3 linked regions of the Homo sapiens genome follow. The protein of the gene in region 1 purifies or fractionates together with the protein of each later gene. This does not show direct contact. Each region holds a gene or a part of one and is shown on either strand. Other genes may lie near its edges.

Evidence for each region.
Region 2: the proteins of KIAA0319L (region 1) and PACC1 purify together in Homo sapiens (co-immunoprecipitation; one large-scale study listed by IntAct). This does not show direct contact.
Region 3: the proteins of KIAA0319L (region 1) and RPS6KA2 fractionate together in Homo sapiens (co-fractionation; one large-scale study listed by BioGRID). This does not show direct contact.

What each region holds. Positions count from the first base shown.
Region 1 is NC_000001.11:35,438,876-35,442,601, reverse strand, and holds part of KIAA0319L (dyslexia-associated protein KIAA0319-like protein), read left to right. Parts: intron 1-265; coding exon 266-356; intron 357-1,463; coding exon 1,464-1,555; intron 1,556-3,726.
Region 2 is NC_000001.11:212,376,711-212,380,436, forward strand, and holds part of PACC1 (proton-activated chloride channel), read right to left. Parts: intron 3,328-3,726; coding exon 3,185-3,327; intron 997-3,184; coding exon 852-996; intron 175-851; exon of another isoform or gene 84-174; intron 1-83. UniProt on the Homo sapiens protein: Chloride channel gated by pH that facilitates the entry of chloride ions into cells upon exposure to extracellular acidic pH. Involved in acidosis-induced cell death by mediating chloride influx and subsequent cell swelling.
Region 3 is NC_000006.12:166,431,752-166,435,251, forward strand, and holds part of RPS6KA2 (ribosomal protein S6 kinase alpha-2), read right to left. Parts: intron 740-3,500; coding exon 650-739; intron 1-649. UniProt on the Homo sapiens protein: Serine/threonine-protein kinase that acts downstream of ERK (MAPK1/ERK2 and MAPK3/ERK1) signaling and mediates mitogenic and stress-induced activation of transcription factors, regulates translation, and mediates cellular proliferation, survival, and differentiation.

The sequences.
Region 1 (3,726 bases):
GCCCTCGTTTCCCTCTTAAAGCTCTTTTCAGCCTGCACCACTGCTGCAGGGTCTCAGGGCTTGCCAGGAGCAGGGACTGGAAAGCAGGGACATTTCAAAAGGTTTAAAGCTTCAGCTGCCCTTAACTCCAAGGTCTTACCTTCCTGGGGAGCCTGAGGCATTCTTGTCTCCAGAGTGAAGCCACACCTGCCCAAGCTGGGAGCAGCCCAGACCTCCCTCCCAGCCTCTCCCTCCACAGCCCTCACCATTTTGATTTTCTTGGCAGAGTGGAGCGTGTTATATGTTATCATTGCTACCTTTGTCATTGTTGTTGCCTTGGGAATCCTGTCTTGGACTGTGATCTGTTGTTGTAAGAGGTAAGATGGATTTTCCTTTGAAATTCATTCGGGCTTCTTGTCATACATTCGTTCCTCAGAGAGGTATTTGGCACCTTCCACGTGGAAGGACTGGGCTGGGTCCTTAGTCAGCATTAGAGAGTTCTGACCCACCTAAGGCATGCACGGGCAGCTTTGCTCACCCTGAGACTCTCCTGAGGGCAGAGGCACACTCCTTCAGTGAGTGGCAGCCACTGCAGTGATTTGGAACCTGGGAAACATGGCTGGGCGGGAGCAGGGCAAGGTGGGGGAGTGAGCGTGAGGGCCAGGGGTACAGACCCGGATCACATCTGTAAGGTGTGTTTTCTTTAATGCACCACACTGTAGCCTCACCAGCATAGCCCGCGAGTTTTTAATTCTGCCTTCTTTCTAGTTGGGATTCATGAGTGTGCATGTTTCCACACATGCACTTTAGGCTAGCCAGGCTCAGGCGTCCTGTGTTTTTTCATTTGAGTCTTCCTATTGAGTCTTCTAAGATGGAATGGTTACATTTATTTTATGTTTTCATTATTAATAATATTATTTCTGTGTATACTGTGTGCCATAATATTTTTATAGGTAATATCATTTTTAAGACACATAACCTTTTCCCATTTTACAGATAAAAAAACTTAGGCTCAGGAAAGGTACATCACTGTCTGAGGACCAGTTGATAGTGACAGAGCTGAGATTCAACTTTCAGTATAACCTCTTATAAAACTTAGAACTAAAGGAATTTTTAAAAATTCCCACCAGTCTAAGACAACCACCATTACCAACTTTGTTAGTGTAATGCCTGTCTCCTCCCACACCCTTCAAGCAGAGGATTTTGTTTTCTTTACGTTTTTAACCAATCTGTCCTTCATTGCCCCTGTGGGATGGTGAGTCCGTGCCAAGGTGGTCATAGCTCCCTTGCCCTTCTCCAGAATTGCTGAGGAACATTTGAGGAACAAATCACAGTTGCCACCTTTCCTGGCTGAGAAGTGAGGAGAGGACACCCCTCTCAGTAGGTGCCCCACCAAAATAGGGCCCTGCATGCACATCTGGCTCTCATCCTCATCCTCCCAGAGAACCTCTTTCCTGAGCAGGGGTGGGGGTTGTGTTTTTTAGGCAAAAAGGAAAACCCAAGAGGAAAAGCAAGTACAAGATCCTGGATGCCACGGATCAGGAAAGCCTGGAGCTGAAGCCAACCTCCCGAGCAGGTAGGGGCCCTGGGTGCCAGAGCTTCTAGGTCTGTGCACTCTCTCTGTGGAAGGCTGCTGTCACTAGCCCCTCCTGAGTGTGTCACTAACAGCCCACTGTGCTTGCAAAGCATTTTGTTCCCTTTTGCCTGATGAAGACTGAGGGTCAGATTTGCCCTGAGCTGCACTGGACAAAATGCCTCCAGGACCCACTTCGCGTGCTACTTCCGCTTGGCGGGGGTGCTGGGCCTGTTGTTTTCCTTTGCCTGGGCATTCTCCTCATGTTTCCCACCTGGAGTTCCGCTTTTCCAACTGCCCCAGGTAGTCAGGGTCAGGGACCTTGGACTTGTCTCTTACTGCTGACCAGTCTGTGCTTTATGGGCAGAGATGAGACCCAGGCCCGTGTCTGCCAGCTGACCACCTTTCAGCCAGCCTTGTTCTCCTGTCTTCCTATCTTTATCATTTGGCAAGTCCTCAGCTTCTGTCAGTGTCTTAGGGCAGATAGGAGGGCATTTCCTTGCACAAACAGTAAGATGACTTTGAGTGATGGCACTGGGAGATCAGGGCAGGTAGTAGGCCTTCCTTCCTCCGCTGGGCTGGGTCACCTGGCGAGGGTTTCACTCATCATGGATGCCATGGGACAGGTATCATTGGTTTATGAGAGCTAGACTCTATAAAGCGATTCCTAAACACTCTGCAAGTAGAACTATTTTTATATAAAGCATTTATTAAACACTTTTCATGCTTAAAGCTTTGTGTTAGGGAGAGGCTATGGGGGTATAGGGAGTCATCAGACACAGGCTGTGCTCTCAGTCTAGTGAGGGAGAAAAGACACACAGTAGCAGAAGAGAACAGGCTCACAGCAGTCTGGACTCTGCACCAAGCAGCTCGATCCACCAACACTGTCAAGGTGGAGACTGGAGGTGGTGGGGCTTGAAATGAGCCCAGGAAACCAGAGCAGTGAGGGCGGGCGGGGCATTTCACCCAGGAATATTGAGAATGAGGGCCTGGAGGTGAAATGTGCAAAACCCACCCCTCACACTGCAGCCAAGGTTTTTATCATGTTACTCTGATCATGTTTTTCACCCCCTGACATTCTTCAATGACTTACTATTTCTAGCACAAAAAGCTAGAACTTTTGGTCTGGTAGATGTGGCCTTTGTGAGCTTACATCAGTTTGCTTTTCTGGAATCTTTCTCTTTGCTGATCTCCCTCTTTTCTAAACAAGTTCTTCTGGTTCATCCAGTAATCTCTTTCTTTTTTAAAAATGTGGCGACAAGGTCTTGCTCTGTCACCCAGGCTGGAGTGCAGTGGTATAGTCATAGCTCACTGCAACCTCCAGCTCCTGAGCTCAAGTGGTCCTCCTGCTTCAGCCTCCCAAAGCAGCTGGGACTACAGGCATGCACCACCATACCCAGCCCTAGAAAGCTCTTTCTTATCCCTCCCTTAACCTCCTCAAGTTGTGCTCACCTTTCTCTCACATGCCTGGGTCGGCATTTCTCTCGCTGTCTCATGATTAGTTATGTTTGCCTGTCTCCCCACCCATCAGTGAAATCCCTGAGGGCAGGGGCTGTCTCATTCATCTGTGGATATGGAGCGGGACCACTATGTGCCAGGCCCTGTGCCAGACACTGCTTATATTGTGGTGAATCAAACGGACAGACTTCACTCTTGTGTAGCTTATGTCAGACAGACATTAAGCAAACTCACAAATACATAAAATATGCTCATAAAAGGCCTTTATGAAGAAAAACACTTAAGCTGAGACCTGGATAAGTGGGAGCTAGCCAGATAAAGCTGCAGGAAATAGCATTCCAGGCAAAGGAACAAAACTGGTGCAGACCCAGCTGCTAGAAGGAGCAGAGAGCATTTGAGGAGGTAGAAGAAGGTGACATGATGGACAGGTTCACCTTCCCACAGAGTAAGGGGTGAGTGACCCAAGGCTCAATGGATGAGCAGGGTCCCTGCTGAGGACTTCTCTTGAGTACAATGGGGAGCCACTGATAGCTTTTTAAGGGGATGAATGGTGGGATTTGGTTTACATTTATTATTATTTGAGACAGAGTCTCACTCTTATCACCCAGGCAGGAGTGCAGTGGTGCGATCAAGGCCCACTGCAGTCTTGACCTCCTGGGCTCAGGTGATCCTTCCACCTCAGCTTCCTAAGTAGCTGGGACCACAGGCATGCGCCA
Region 2 (3,726 bases), about 180 Mb from region 1:
CTGGCTTTGAGCCTCTTCCAAGTAACCAGCCTGGACTAGTCTGAGGAGCTAGGGCTCATGACAGGGCCCTGTTTAAGACTAACCCAAGACAGTCTTCTCCGGCCTAACTTCTGGCCAGTGATGGCCTAGTTGACTGGAGTGTGTCCTTCTGCTCCAGATGAGCATCCCGAGCCACTGGGATACAAGAAGAAAAGACTAGCTTTTTTTACTATTTATTTTTATCTCATCCTTTTAACATTTCTATTTTTGAATGTTTAAAGTGTATATAACACTAAGACAATAATAGTATGTTATATCACCTGCAGAGTTATATGTATATGGAGTATATGATCAAAAAGTTTTTACTAATGGGAAATCTGATCAAAAAGCTTTCAGCCCACTGGCCTAGCAGCCAGGAGATACACCTGGCATCTCTCGCTGTGACACCTGTGAGAGCTGAAGAGGACCTTAGGAAAAGGATCAACATGCACACTTGGGACCACTGTGTCTAGTCTCTCTTCCCTGCAAATAATCAATCTGCTAGGCCACTGCCAGCCCCTCAAAGTGCTGCTAGATGCAAGACATCAGACACAGCTGGGCGAGTTACTGACCTCTCTGCAAGCCACAATGATCTCTGCCCCACACATGCATTCCGTGAGGACTGGCCGGTATGTGCGCTGCCTGCAGAAGCACACACAGACTCCCTGGCATAGCATATGAAGCCCTCCATGGGAGTCCCTTCTCATCCTGACCAAGGCCTACTCACCCTTAAGGCCCTGCTCAAAGGAGCCTTCTCTGCAAAGCTTCCCTCCACCTCAGACTCGAATGTGGAAAAGTCACCAGCAGTTTCAAGCAAACCCAGAGCCACCTACCTCCTGCCGGAACTCCACTGCTTCCCGCCCATCCTCCTCCTTGGTCTTTACCAGTGACATCTTGACCCAGGTGCGGAAGCCCCCAGAGAACTTCCAGCTGGAATAGGCACTCTCACAGGCCTGCATGAAGCCTACCCTGTTTGGGCTTGGAGGAAGGAAGGAGAAGGAAGATCCAGGTCAATGCAGGTCTGGCAGCAGGAGTCGAAGCCCCCACTGCAAGCTGGTTTCTTTGCTGGCACAACCAGGATGCTGCCCACTCCCTGCCTCCTCTCCAAATTGTGATTGCCTCAACAGGGCTGTCAGTCACCAGCAAAAGCAAGGCCCATCCCTCTTTTCTCTCCATTTGGTTTCCAAATGGAGGGGTAGTCACTGGCCTCAAGGCAGGAACATGATCCTTGAAGCTCCCAGTGGGAGAAATCTTCCTCCCTCCTCCCATCATTCCTATCGATGGCTACCAAAGCTGTCGGCAATGAAGTTGGCAGAAGCTCCCCAGAACATGGCGCTCACAGCTCCTCAGAGAACTCTGGACTTCAGCAGAGCCTGAGGAAGCCCTCACCAGCCTGTCAGCTCCCATGGAAGGCCCAAAGAGGGGAAGAGGGTTCCTTGGGGAGGTCTCAGCCAGATGGGTCACCTACAGCATCAGCCCCAAGACGGTGCAGATGCAGCAAAATCAAAGCGAACATAAAAACAAGTAAAAACTGCAGCAGCATACCGAGGAAGCTCACGAAAGGAGCGTGGAGTGGGGGTGGGATCCCGGGGAAAGTCTTCCAGGAGGAAGGCAAGATGGCCAGCTTGAAGCAGGGAAGGGAGAGGGAATTCTAGGTGGCAGAAAGGGTGGAAAATGCTAAGGCAGAGGCTCCGAGCTCTGGGGTGGAAGAACAAAGCAGTGGTGGTGTGGAATGGAGGCAGCTCGCTGCATGTCCAGCTGGGGAGCAGCCTCCCTGCCCCTGTAGCTGCCTCCCTGCTTGCTCTGAATGGAGCCTCTGGGCTCAGCAGGACCTGGTAGGAACTGAGTCCCTCTCAACTCAGGCACATGAAGAAAATTCTCCTGCCCTCTAGGCTCCACGGTGTGACCCCAAAGCAGTGTGTGTGGAGCAGACAAGAACTTTCTGATGGTCAGGGGACATTCATCACTGTAAATCGAAGACTAAGAGAGGTGGCAGAGCTTATATCCTCATACCAGAGATGCAGTAGACCCTTGAACAACACAGGTTTGAACTGGCTGGGTCCACTCACGTGCGGATTTTCTTTTGCCTCTGCCACTCCTGAGACAGCAAGACCAAACCTCCTCCTCAGCCTACTCAACATGAAGGCGATGAGGATGAAGGCCTTTACAATGATCACTTCCACTGAATGAATAGTAAGTATATTTTCTCTTCCTTATGATTTCCTTTTTTTTTTTTTTGGAGTCTCGCTCTGTTGCCCAGGCTGGAGTGCAGTGGCGCAATCTCAGCTCACTGCAAACTCTGCCTCCTGGGTTCAATCGGTTCTCCTGCCTCAACCTCTTGAGTAGCTGGGACTACAGGTGCCCGCTACCACGCCTGGCTAATTTTTTGTATTTTTAGTAGAGATGGGGTTTCACCATGTTAGCCAGGATGGTCTCGATCTCCTGACCTCGTGATCCGCCCACCTTGGCCTCCCAAAGTGGTAGGATTACAGGTGTGAGCCACCACACCTGGCCATGATTTTCTTAATAACATTTTTTTTCTCTAGTTTACTTTATCGTAAGAATACAGTCTATGATATATATAACCACGCAATATGTGTTGTTTATGTTATTGGTAAGGCTTCTGTCAACAGTAGGCTGTTAGTAGTTTTGGGGGTCAAAAGTTATACACAAATTTTTGGCTGCATAGGCAGGAGTGGTTAAGTTTGGTAACCCCAAACCCCAAGTTGTTCAAGGACCAACTGTATTTCAGGCAAACATACATTAAGCCCGCACTAAGGGCAAGATGTGGTTCCTGTGCACACTGTGGGGGAAACCAAGGAACCACACAAGAACTTGCTCTCAAAGGGACTTACAAATCAAAGGCAACTTCCCCTACTCCTCAGCAGCCCCAGGCAATGGTGAGACCAAATGATCTCTCTAGAACCAGCCAGCACTATGTGCATGGAGAGCCAGCATGCTCCTCCACACCAGATTTGCTTAACTTTGTGATAAGATGTTGAGTGGACCGGCCAAGCTCATGAGGTCCCTTCCTGGGCCAGTGGGTCATCTGAGAATGCCCCTTCCCTTCCCTGCCCTCACCCCTCCGTCTCTAGCCTTGGGACATACACAGCTGGAATAAGATAAAAAGTAGACAGTAAGCCCACTGTGAACTCTAAAAGCCCACCTTTGCAGGAACTCCTGGAAAGAAGAGAAGAGGAGGTAATCAATGGCGCTGAAGTCCTCACTACTCTTGTTCAGGCGGAACTGGAGGAAGACCAGCTCCCGCTTTTTCACTTCCCGGGGCCCCTGGACAATCAGGGCAGATTTCTGCAGAGAGAAAAAGGACAGAGTCTCAGTCCTGGGAGAGTACACAGAGGCCTCTGGGTCTGAGGGCAGAAGTACTGACTGGAAAGCCCATAGCTCCTTGCCCAGTGGTCTCCAAAGGGACCACTAGCCAACAACAGGACTGGGCTGGGACTCATGCTCATTCCTGGGGAGTTTTCCCCATATGATGCCCAACCAGAGCTGAATGCAGCTCATCCTCTGTCCACTTTTCTCATTGGTTCTTTGAGTTATGGAAGCTCTTAATTTAGCAAGGATGATCACTTTCATCTGTTATGTGTGCCAATCTTTTCTTCCAGTCTGTCATTTTTCTTTTAACTTTGTTTCCAATGTCATTTGTCCTATGGAAACTTTAAATTTAACGTAGTAAAACCTTAAATCCTT
Region 3 (3,500 bases), on another chromosome or scaffold:
GATTACAGGTGTGCGCCACCACACCCGGCTAATTTTGTATTTTTAGTAGAGATGGGGTTTCACCATGTTGACCAGGCTGGTCTCAAAGTGATCTGCCTTCAGGAGACCTCAAGTGATCTGCCTGCCTACGCCTCCCAAAGTGCTGGGATTACAGGTGTGAGCCACCGCACCCGGCCTGTTCGGGCTATTCTTATGCCAAGCTTGCATGTTAAGACCGTTTGCACGCAGCAGTCACTATGCATGAGGGAAACTGAGGTAGGCCCAATATCCTGTGACTCTAGGTTCATAATGCTAGAATCAGTTTGGAGTTGGAGCGTGAGGAGGAAAATTGTCTCCTGTCTGTGCTCCCGGATCCCAAACCCTGCACCCCCATGGGCCTCTATGAGAGACTCCGCCTGTGGACTGTAATTCACACAAGCTCTCTCTTCCTCTGTTTTACTTGCTCCCTCCATGACTGGGGCGGTGGCTGTCAAAAAGACTTGAGTACACAGTCCAGCAAGTCAGCTCCAAGTGACTGAGATATGTGGGTGGTGGAAACCAGCTGAGACAGGCATGAGATGTGAGAAAGCTTGCTCTGAGTGAATGGGAGTTTTGTGTCAGTTGAAGAAACAGAAGGAAGTGGAGATGCTGTTGCACGGGGACCACTCACATCCTTGAGGGTGATGATGTTCGGGTGCTGGCCGTACCGCAGGAGGATCTCAATCTCTTCCGAGGGGTCTCTCTTGCTCTTATCAATGATCTGGAACAAACACAGCACATGGCAGTGAGGGGTCTACTTTAGGCTTTCGGGTGGTATCTGCTGGTGGACCATTGAGTTTGGATAAAGTCTGGCCCCAGGTGGCCCAATCACTACAATCTCACACCCGACCAAGAGATAACCTGAGATTGTCTGGAGATTCATGGCAAGTCCTTTCTTTGACAACTAGTGTAAGATTTACATCTACAAAGAGGAGTACAGGCTGGGCAAGGTGGCTCATGCCTGTAATCCCAGCACTTTGGGAGGCCGGGGTGGGCAGGTGGCTTGAGGTCAGGAGTTTAAGACCAGCCAGCTTGGCTAACATGACAAAACCTGGTCTCTACTAAAAATACAAATATTAGCCAGACATGGTGGTGTGTGCCTGTAATCCCAGCTACTCAGGAGGCTGAGGCATGAGAATCACTTGAACCTGGGAGGCAGAGGTTGCAGGGAGCTGAGATAATGCCACTGCACTCCAGCCTGGGTGACAGAGCGAGACTCTGTCTCAAAAAAAAAAAAAAAAAAGGAGTACAAGACTTCAGACATGAATTTTAAGGTGTTATAAGGTTGGGTGGAGACACGTGTAGGGAGCTCATGCAAGTGCCACCAAATAACAGACTGTGTCCCACCCTCGCAGTGGGCACCATCCACAACAAGCCTCCAGCCACTGTGCACCTTCTGCCTTGTTCCGGGAATTACAAACCAGCCACAAAATGAGGTGAGGCGCATGGCTCTCACCAAGAGATGCTGGGGATGGTGCGCAGGCCAGACCTGCCTTGCTGTTTAGACATATGCAAGCTCCCCTCCCCCGCCCAGCATCTGTATCCGATGTCTTAGGATAACAGATAAAGTTGCTTCAACCCCATGGAGACATATGGTTTCTGAGGACAGGGTGTTGGGATTTAAGCCTACCTTGGAAACAGGAAGTCGCTGTTGGTCCCTGGTGGCTAATCCCTCTGGAGGTGCCTAAGTCCCGCCCTTGCCGCCCCTGCTGTGGGGACGGGACCAGTGGGAGGAGGGCACCACACTCATGGGAAATTGGCAACATGCAACATGTATTTTGCAAACAACACTCAGAGCAGAAGAAAAGCGATTGGAAACACCTTCCTAACCATGATTTGTACTATTCTCACATTAGTTCAACCTAATTTTAAAATAGTCTCTATTTGGAGACCGTGCAGTCATTTTACTACTAGAATATGAGGGTGACTTGCTTTTAACTTCTATCATGTCAAAGTCTCTAGGCAGAGCTTTGCATAAAACTCTATTTCGTTAATTTTTTTTGGAGACAGGGTCTCACTCTGTTGCCTAGGTTGGAATACAGTGGTACAAGCATAGTTCACTGCAACATCAAACCCCTGGGCTCAAGTGATCCTCCTGCCTCAGCCTCCAGAATAACTAGGACTACAGAGGTGTGTGCCACCCTACTCAGCTAATTTTTAAATTCTTTGTAGAGATGATGGGGTCTTGCTGTGTTGCCCAGGCTGGTCTCTAACTCCTGGCTTCAAGTGATCCTCCTGCCTCAGCCTCCCAAAGTGCTGAGATTACAGGCATGAGCAACTACACCTGGCTATTTCTTTACTTTAGAGAACCAAACGCTTGGGTAGCATTTGACTCACTGCTCATAATCTGTCCCCTGGTCACCCTTCGTCCACTCCCCGTCACCGTTATAAAAACTCACCATAGTGCCAGTTCTCACCCCATTATAGTTTCAAAGGATGCTCTGCCACGGCCACCATTCAGCTGTGACTGCATCAGTGGCCCATGATCTGTGAGTCCTAATAGCCTGCGTTGTAAACAGGCAGAAGAGTTAGGGTCCCTTTCTGGACATAGAATTTCTCTCCTTCTGCTGCATTTAATTCTACTGAAGTTTTAGCTAGGACACTAGGACTAATTCTATTGCCAACATAAATGCATCATTCTCAAGTAGAGACTTTTAAAACGATCATTCAAGGAGGGGTGGGGGACTTTCCCTAACATGCCACAGCCTAAGCAGGTCCTGGGAGGCTGGTCCTGCACTGCTTGTAGGGAAGCTGGCTGTCAGGTACCCAAACTCCTCTGCTCCTGTCTGCCTGTGGGCATCCCGTCTATCGGGGCCGGGATCCTGTCTTTGCAATTAGAGAAGGTTAAAATACATTTATAAATTTATAAAAGAATTCAGTAGAAGATTTTTTCGCAAATATGATTTCATGATAAAGGGATGTGTTCTTAGCATGAATCTGTTTTATCACTCTCACAGTGGAACAAGATGCAGAGTAAACAAGAAAGTGGGAGCTTTTTCTCCACCGCCACGGACCATCTTCAAGATACAAGGAGTAAAAAAGGCCGACGCGAGCAGGTGCATCCTACGCCATCCCTTGTTTTAAAAATGGAGAGAAGAATGCAGATAGACGCATCCATTTCCTTGTGGGTGCATAAAATAACCCTGGAAGGAAGGAGGAAACATTTAATTGCCTTGCCTTCCTGTGAGGAGGGGAACAGGGTGCCTGGGGGCCCATGGGTGGGAGGGAAACTTTGCTGTATCCACATGAATTTTTAAAAATTTTGAACCACAAGAATATATTGTCTATTCAAAATATGAAATAAAGAATTCCAAAATTTCAGCTTACTATTTTGTAAGCTGAAATTGCAGGACAACGTGACTATTATTTTAAAGAATCTGGGACTACAGATGGCTGCCCTCTCAACCCTAGTATCTATTTTATTTCTATGTGTTCTTTTGTTGTGAGTCTTCAGAAAAATTCTGACTTACAATGATAAGTAT